2 linked regions of the Homo sapiens genome follow. The protein of the gene in region 1 interacts with the protein of each later gene in a pairwise test. Each region holds a gene or a part of one and is shown on either strand. Other genes may lie near its edges. The genes, in order: NHSL3 and SFRP1.

Region 1 (3,799 bases):
ACGAGGTCAGGAGATCGAGACCATCCTGGCTAACACGGTGAATGAAACCCCGTCTCTACTAAAAATACAAAAAATTAGCCTTGCCTGATGGCGGGTGCCTGTAGTCCCAGCTACTTGGGAGGCTGAGGCAGGAGAATGGCGTGAACCCAGGAGGTGGAGCTTGCAGTGAGCCGAGATTGCACCACTGCACTCCAGCCTGGTCGACAGTGTGAGACTCCATCTCAAAAAAAAAATAAAAAAAGAGTTAGAAAATCTTAACTGTTGGAAGCCTGGTGTAACTAACTAGTGCCAGCTGTGTGACCTTGGGAAAACCCTTAACCTCTCTGAACTTCTGTTTGATGTTCTATAAAAATGAGGATAAGTACCCTATTGGAATGAATGCCAAATGTTTAGAATGACGACTAACACGTAATAATATGTTTACTAAATAGTAAGCTATCACTAAAGGGAAATTACCATCATTGACTTAGTAGCCTTAGTCTTACAGAAAGAAGCCTCTAGCTTTGTTTAACCTAGCCTTGCCCATACCTACTTGACTGTGGAAACCATTTCTCGCAGAGCTCTTATTACAAAAGTAGTGCCCTGCAGAATGTGCCTGGAGTCCTTTGCTCTAACAGTTTTTCTCCCACGACTGGCCCCCAGGCTCCACCTTCCGACCCCATGACTCATTTCCCAAATCTGGAAAGTCAGGGCGGCGTCGGCGGGAGCGGCGGAGCACTGTGCTGGGACTCCCGCAGCATGTGCAGAAGGAGCTTGGTGAGGCCTGGGTTAGGAGGGCAGTGGTGGGGTGGGTGGGGAGCCTTGGTCATCCCCTCTCTGCTGACCCCACCTCCTCCCTGTCCCTTCCAGGCCTGAGGAATGAGCGTGAGGCACCAGGCACGCCCCGGGCTCCTGGTGCACGGGATGCCGTACGCATCCCCACAGTGGACGGCCGCCCCCGAGGCACCTCAGGGATGGGGGCCCGGGTGTCCCTGCAGGCGCTGGAGGCGGAGGCGGAGGCTGGCGCTGAGACAGAGGCCATGCTGCAGCGCCACATTGACCGTGTCTACCGGGATGACACCTTTGTTGGCCGGTCCACGGGTACCCGGGCCCCACCATTGACCCGGCCCATGTCCCTAGCAGTGCCTGGATTGACAGGAGGGGCAGGGCCTGCAGAGCCCCTGAGCCCGGCCATGTCCATCTCCCCCCAGGCCACCTACCTGTCGAAGTTGATTCCACATGCTGTGCTGCCGCCTACAGTGGACGTGGTGGCCCTAGGCCGCTGCAGCCTGCGCACACTAAGCCGCTGCAGCCTGCACTCGGCCAGCCCAGCCTCAGTCCGCTCGCTGGGGCGCTTCTCCTCCGTCTCCAGCCCACAGCCCCGCAGCCGCCACCCATCCTCCTCCAGTGACACCTGGAGCCACTCTCAATCCTCCGACACCATTGTGTCTGACGGTTCCACCCTCTCCTCTAAGGGTGGCTCTGAGGGCCAGCCGGAGAGCTCTACGGCTAGCAATAGCGTGGTACCCCCTCCCCAGGGAGGCAGTGGGAGGGGCTCTCCCAGTGGGGGCAGCACTGCTGAGGCCTCAGACACACTCAGCATTCGGAGCAGTGGGCAGTTGTCTGGCCGGAGTGTGTCCCTGCGTAAGCTGAAGCGGCCTCCACCCCCTCCCCGCCGGACCCACTCCCTCCATCAGCGGGGCTTAGCAGTGCCTGATGGGCCATTAGGGTTGCCCCCTAAGCCTGAGCGTAAGCAGCAGCCCCAGCTGCCTCGGCCACCCACCACTGGTGGCTCAGAAGGGGCGGGGGCAGCACCCTGTCCACCCAACCCAGCCAACAGCTGGGTACCTGGCTTGTCTCCGGGTGGTTCCCGGCGCCCCCCACGGTCCCCAGAACGGACACTTTCGCCCTCCAGTGGATACTCGAGCCAAAGTGGTACTCCCACCCTCCCTCCCAAGGGCCTGGCAGGTCCCCCTGCTTCCCCAGGCAAGGCCCAGCCCCCTAAACCAGAGCGTGTCACGTCTCTTCGCTCCCCTGGGGCCTCCGTCTCCTCTTCCCTCACGTCTTTATGTTCCTCCTCCTCTGACCCAGCCCCCTCAGACCGCTCTGGGCCACAGATATTGACCCCCCTGGGTGACAGGTTTGTCATACCTCCTCACCCCAAGGTGCCTGCCCCCTTCTCCCCACCTCCCTCCAAGCCCAGGAGCCCTAACCCAGCTGCCCCTGCTCTAGCCGCCCCTGCTGTGGTTCCTGGGCCTGTTTCTACCACTGACGCCAGTCCTCAGTCCCCTCCCACTCCCCAGACAACCTTGACTCCACTGCAGGAGTCTCCTGTCATCTCCAAAGACCAGTCACCCCCACCTTCCCCACCCCCATCTTATCATCCACCCCCACCACCCACTAAGAAGCCAGAGGTGGTTGTGGAGGCACCATCTGCCTCAGAGACTGCTGAGGAGCCCCTCCAAGATCCCAACTGGCCCCCTCCCCCACCCCCTGCCCCTGAGGAGCAGGACCTGTCCATGGCTGACTTCCCCCCACCAGAGGAGGCTTTTTTCTCTGTGGCCAGCCCTGAGCCTGCAGGCCCTTCAGGCTCCCCAGAGCTTGTCAGCTCCCCGGCTGCTTCGTCCTCCTCAGCTACTGCTTTGCAGATTCAGCCCCCGGGTAGCCCAGACCCTCCTCCAGCTCCGCCAGCCCCAGCTCCTGCTAGTTCCGCCCCAGGGCATGTGGCCAAGCTCCCTCAGAAGGAACCGGTGGGCTGTAGCAAGGGTGGTGGGCCTCCCAGGGAGGACGTAGGTGCGCCCCTGGTCACGCCCTCGCTCCTGCAGATGGTGCGGCTGCGCTCCGTGGGTGCTCCAGGAGGGGCTCCCACCCCAGCACTGGGGCCATCGGCCCCCCAGAAACCACTGCGAAGGGCCCTGTCAGGGCGGGCCAGCCCAGTGCCTGCCCCCTCCTCAGGGCTCCATGCTGCGGTCCGACTCAAGGCCTGCAGCCTGGCCGCCAGTGAAGGCCTCTCAAGTGCTCAGCCCAACGGACCGCCTGAGGCAGAGCCACGGCCTCCCCAGTCCCCTGCCTCAACGGCCAGTTTCATCTTCTCCAAGGGCTCTAGGAAGCTGCAGCTGGAGCGGCCCGTGTCCCCTGAGACCCAGGCTGACCTCCAGCGGAATCTGGTGGCAGAACTCCGGAGCATCTCAGAGCAGCGGCCACCCCAGGCCCCAAAGAAGTCACCTAAGGCTCCCCCACCTGTGGCCCGCAAGCCGTCTGTGGGAGTCCCCCCACCCGCCTCCCCCAGTTACCCTCGAGCTGAGCCCCTTACTGCTCCTCCCACCAATGGGCTCCCTCACACCCAGGACAGGACTAAGAGGGAGCTGGCGGAGAATGGAGGTGTCCTGCAGCTGGTGGGCCCAGAGGAGAAGATGGGCCTCCCGGGCTCAGGTACAGTGGGCAGTGCTAGGGTGAGGTCCCATTGCTGATGATGGGAAGTAGGAATCTGAAGTCCCGCCATGGGGGATTTGTTCTTGGATCTTTAACTTTTCTGGTCTGAGAATGCCTGGGAAGGGCAAGCTGTCACCCTTGCTGGGGCCCAGAGGAGAATGGTGTGTGAGTGTCAGGCCTACTGTGTTTGAATTCCAACTTTGCCTCTTTCCCTACCCTTCCTAGCTACATTGTAAAGTGTGGGGCAGTGACACCTACATTATAGTGTCTGAACATGTGTAGGGTGTCCAGCCCAGTGCTGCGGGCACTGTCAGTAAATCAAAGCGGTAAGAAGGTTGGGTGAGGGTATGCTTTGTTGGGCTCCTAGTGCCAGAACCAAGCCAGGAGG
Region 2 (4,527 bases), on another chromosome or scaffold:
TTTACAAACAAGCTGGCGGGCAAGGCAGCGCGCCCTATAGTGTCTCTGTGGAGCGCTAAGATCTGTGACCCCTTTGCCACATGGGGTGTGCGCTCAGACTGGGCTATGAATATATCAGCCTCTCTCCACCCGCACTTAGGGACAGAAGATATGGAGACTCCAGGAACTTCATGAACTATTTGCTGTGGTCTTCTGTCCCGGGATAGTCCGGGTCTCACTCCCAGCTCTCCAGAGCTTAACCCTCCCTCTCAGGGGAATGTTTGAAACCTACGAAGAATTCTCAGGAATTCGAGGTAGAAGGTGGCAGAGAGACTTCTGTTCCTGGGGGCCGAGCTGTTGTGCTGATACCGTCCTCTTGGCGTCTGCCCTAGTGGGGACCCTTGATTTTAACTTGAAGTTCCTGGACTGGGTCTAACCTTAGCATGTGTGCCTGAGTGATGGACTTGGTATTTACACCAGCCACGCTGATAAGTGCACATGTGTTTTTAATGTTTTGGCTTTCCACACCACAAACACACAGATGTGCTGTCGCCCGGGCTAGGACTTGAGTAGGGTTTTTCTATTTAAATATATATTATATATTTAAAAAAGTGTCCTCCCAGAGCTAATACCGTTGCTAGCAGCTCTTCCTGCCGCCACACCGGGCAAAGTCCACCCACTGCCCCAGTGTTGAGGGCCACCATGGGCGGCCCCACCTGGAGAGGTGCTGCTCACAGCAAACAGCTCCAACTGCGCCTTCGCCTCGCCTTCCAGGGAGCCCAGCCAGGCCCACTGGGTATTTACAAGCAGACCTCCCTCGCTTCAGCCTTCCTGAACCCCTGTTAGTTGGGAAACCACCTGTCTGCACCGCAGCTAGAGAACCGAGGAGAGGAGCCGCTAGTCTAAAGGGCTGTTGGTTGAAATTAGGAAGCAGTGTAAAGAAAAAGAAAAAAAAAGTTTGGGAGGCCAAGGCAGGAGCATCACCTGAGGTCAGGAGTTCGAGACCAGCCTGGCTAACATGGTGAAACCCCGTCTCTACTAAAAATACAAAAAATTAGCGGGGGCATGGTGGCACGCGGCTGTAATCCCAGCTACTCGGGAGGCTGAGGCAGGAGAATCGCTTGAACCCGGGAGGCGGAGGTTGCAGTCAGCGGAGATAGCGCCATTGCACTCCAGCTTAGGCAACAAGAGCGAAACTGTCTCAAAAAAAAAAAGTCTTCATAATTTCATGGGTTTGCAAGTATGATCCAGGCTCCCCGCTTCTCTGCAAGCCAATGCGAGTTAATTACAGCGTCCGCCCTGGTCTCTCTCCACCCCACGCCGTGATCCATTCCCCTTCTTTTTCTCCCCTTGTCTCTTTCCTCCTCCCCCTTTTATTTATGTATTTTTGGTTTTGTTTTTTAAGGGGTGTTGAGCCGCGTCTGGTTCTAGTAAACCGAACCCGCTCGCGAGGGAGGCGATTGGCTCCCGCGCCGGTGACGGACGTGGTAACGAGTGCGGCTCGCCCCGCCGGGAGCTGATTGGCTGCGCGGGGCGGCTCCGAGGGCTCGGCCGTAGGAGCCCCGCGCACTCCAGCCCTGCAGCCTCCGGAGTCAGTGCCGCGCGCCCGCCGCCCCGCGCCTTCCTGCTCGCCGCACCTCCGGGAGCCGGGGCGCACCCAGCCCGCAGCGCCGCCTCCCCGCCCGCGCCGCCTCCGACCGCAGGCCGAGGGCCGCCACTGGCCGGGGGGACCGGGCAGCAGCTTGCGGCCGCGGAGCCGGGCAACGCTGGGGACTGCGCCTTTTGTCCCCGGAGGTCCCTGGAAGTTTGCGGCAGGACGCGCGCGGGGAGGCGGCGGAGGCAGCCCCGACGTCGCGGAGAACAGGGCGCAGAGCCGGCATGGGCATCGGGCGCAGCGAGGGGGGCCGCCGCGGGGCAGCCCTGGGCGTGCTGCTGGCGCTGGGCGCGGCGCTTCTGGCCGTGGGCTCGGCCAGCGAGTACGACTACGTGAGCTTCCAGTCGGACATCGGCCCGTACCAGAGCGGGCGCTTCTACACCAAGCCACCTCAGTGCGTGGACATCCCCGCGGACCTGCGGCTGTGCCACAACGTGGGCTACAAGAAGATGGTGCTGCCCAACCTGCTGGAGCACGAGACCATGGCGGAGGTGAAGCAGCAGGCCAGCAGCTGGGTGCCCCTGCTCAACAAGAACTGCCACGCCGGCACCCAGGTCTTCCTCTGCTCGCTCTTCGCGCCCGTCTGCCTGGACCGGCCCATCTACCCGTGTCGCTGGCTCTGCGAGGCCGTGCGCGACTCGTGCGAGCCGGTCATGCAGTTCTTCGGCTTCTACTGGCCCGAGATGCTTAAGTGTGACAAGTTCCCCGAGGGGGACGTCTGCATCGCCATGACGCCGCCCAATGCCACCGAAGCCTCCAAGCCCCAAGGTAAGGCTGCCTCCTCCCACGTGCGCGAGCCGCCCCCTCCATCCCCCGGCCGGAGCTGCAGGAGAACCCGCGCCACCCTACGCCCGCCCGCCGCTGGGTCCCGGTGCTGGGGACTGAGGGCCCGAGGTTGCTCGCATGCTGTGCACGTGATTCCTAAGCGCGTCTGGTCTGTCCCAGGTATCGCTCAGCGCCCCTCGCGACCCAGGTGCACGGCGGGGCTGGCCCGGGAGCGGCAGCTCTGCGCCTTGGCCTCGCAGGGACTCGCTGTGGTCCCCGGAGCCGCTCTTCCTGGGATCCAACTTCGCCTTTCCCATACCTGAAACAAAGCCTTGCGCTTTAAATAACAGGGGAGCTTCCCTCTCCTCTAGGAGGACTCCGAGTCCCTATCGAAGTTTTTAACCTCTGAGACGGGAGGAAAAAACAAAAACCCAAAGCGTAGAAAGTTCAGAAAGGCCGAGAGAATGCTTGGAGCAGCTTTTGTTTATTTTCATAGGTTCGACAAAGATTTAAAAAATAAAACCAAGCCCTTTCCTTCACTGGTCATTCAGTCAAGTAGCCTTGGGATTGCTGCAAAACTGGCTGAGAAAGTTTAGGAACCGTGGGGACTTCTGTTTCTCCACCCCTTCCAGGTACCAGCTCTGCCCTCGGAGGGCTGGGGGTGGAAAGTCTTTTCTCCCTCCCTCTAGCGTACCCCCTGCTTTTCTCATTTACACAAATCCTCAGCTCATTAGAAAGATAAAAATGTAATTAGCTCATTGTTCATCTCCTCCCGGGGAGAGCAGCTCTGCAAAATGCAGACTTTCCTAACAGCCTGAGGGACCGGCCCGAGGTTCCTCTCAAAACCCCCTTATGTTTAAAGAGCAATTCTTGAGGGGGAAGAAAAAAAAATCCTGGGAAGTCAAATAAAATGAAATAGATATAAAGATAAAATATACACATCACAGACCTGACTTCTATAGAAGTAAATTCAACCCAGAATTCTTTAGAAGCGAAGTTTAGGCTCTGAGGTGTGGAGAGGGTCAGGGATTGGGGAGCTGTACCCCAGCTGCGCTTAGCACAGACGCAGGCTTCCTGAGGGCTTTTTGAGGAGGGCCTTTAGGGTGGGGGAGAAAGACTGCCTACACTTAGCTCACCTTAAAGTGTCTTTAACCTCTGTTATTGATGCTAAAAGAGGGGAGTGCAGTCACCTGGCTCCTCAGAGTGAGGATTTGGGCAGGTGGGGGAAAGGGATACCCCAAATTTTAGATGCTTTTGCTTATTCTAGGGAGGGTGGAGATGGGTCCACAGTGACTGTCGTTGGATGGCTGGATGGGAACGGCACTGATTGCCCGCAGTGGCCAGGTCTGGGCACCGCTGCTCTCAGAGTCAACTCTGGTGTTGGGAGTGGAGTGAGGGTAGCGGATGCATCTGCACTTTGTGAGCGAGAACTGAGCAGTTACCTGGAGCAAACAAAGCGCCTTGTGTTCTGTTGGCTTGCACCCATCCCCTGCAGCCTGCGGGAATTTCCTTCTCCCCTTCCTCAGCCAGCGGGGATTAGCCCAGCCCTGCCCTGTGAGGCTGTGCCCAGCCCTGACCTGGAGTCCATTCCCAATGGCTTCCGATGGTCTCTTTCTGGGACCGTCTGCAGACATGAGTGGACACCTTAGGGGGCTCGGCTGCGGAAAAGGTGCTGCAGTCCACAGGGAACATGGGGGGATTGGACGGGTTGCCTGAAGAAGAGAGGAAAGAATCCCTCACCCCAGCCCCCAAAAGGCTGTGATGGGATGGGGAAACCCCATAATCGCTGTCTTCCGGACACCTTTTGCCCCTTGGCTGCAGTTCCACTGGTCGGCGCCCTTCTCAGCCTGGCTTGGAACCGTCCTCACTCACCTCCACTCCTCCCAGCAGCGCTCAGGTAGTCACCCTCCCAAGACAGGTCTTTGAGGAGCAAAGAGAAAAGTGGGGAGAGGGCCGGTCGGGAGTGGGGCTTGGGACTGGTTTTCCCCTCAGTGGTTTTGGTGGGGGGCTCTGCCCTGAGATGGCACACCACCCTCCCCAGGACTGCAATCCCTGGTGTAAGGGAGCCCCACGTGATTTCCTGCGAGGTCCCTGTGGAGGGGAGGGTGGGGCGTGTGTGTGTGTGTGTG

Evidence for each region.
Region 2: the proteins of NHSL3 (region 1) and SFRP1 interact in a two-hybrid assay, tested with the Homo sapiens proteins (one large-scale study listed by BioGRID and IntAct).

The regions. Positions count from the first base shown.
Region 1 is NC_000001.11:32,769,031-32,772,829, forward strand, and holds part of NHSL3 (NHS-like protein 3), read left to right. Parts: intron 1-642; coding exon 643-756; intron 757-849; coding exon 850-3,411; intron 3,412-3,799. UniProt on the Homo sapiens protein: Able to directly activate the TNF-NFkappaB signaling pathway.
Region 2 is NC_000008.11:41,306,490-41,311,016, reverse strand, and holds the start of SFRP1 (secreted frizzled-related protein 1 precursor), read left to right. Parts: upstream 1-1,543; 5' UTR 1,544-1,857; coding exon 1,858-2,401; intron 2,402-4,527. UniProt on the Homo sapiens protein: Soluble frizzled-related proteins (sFRPS) function as modulators of Wnt signaling through direct interaction with Wnts. They have a role in regulating cell growth and differentiation in specific cell types. SFRP1 decreases intracellular beta-catenin levels.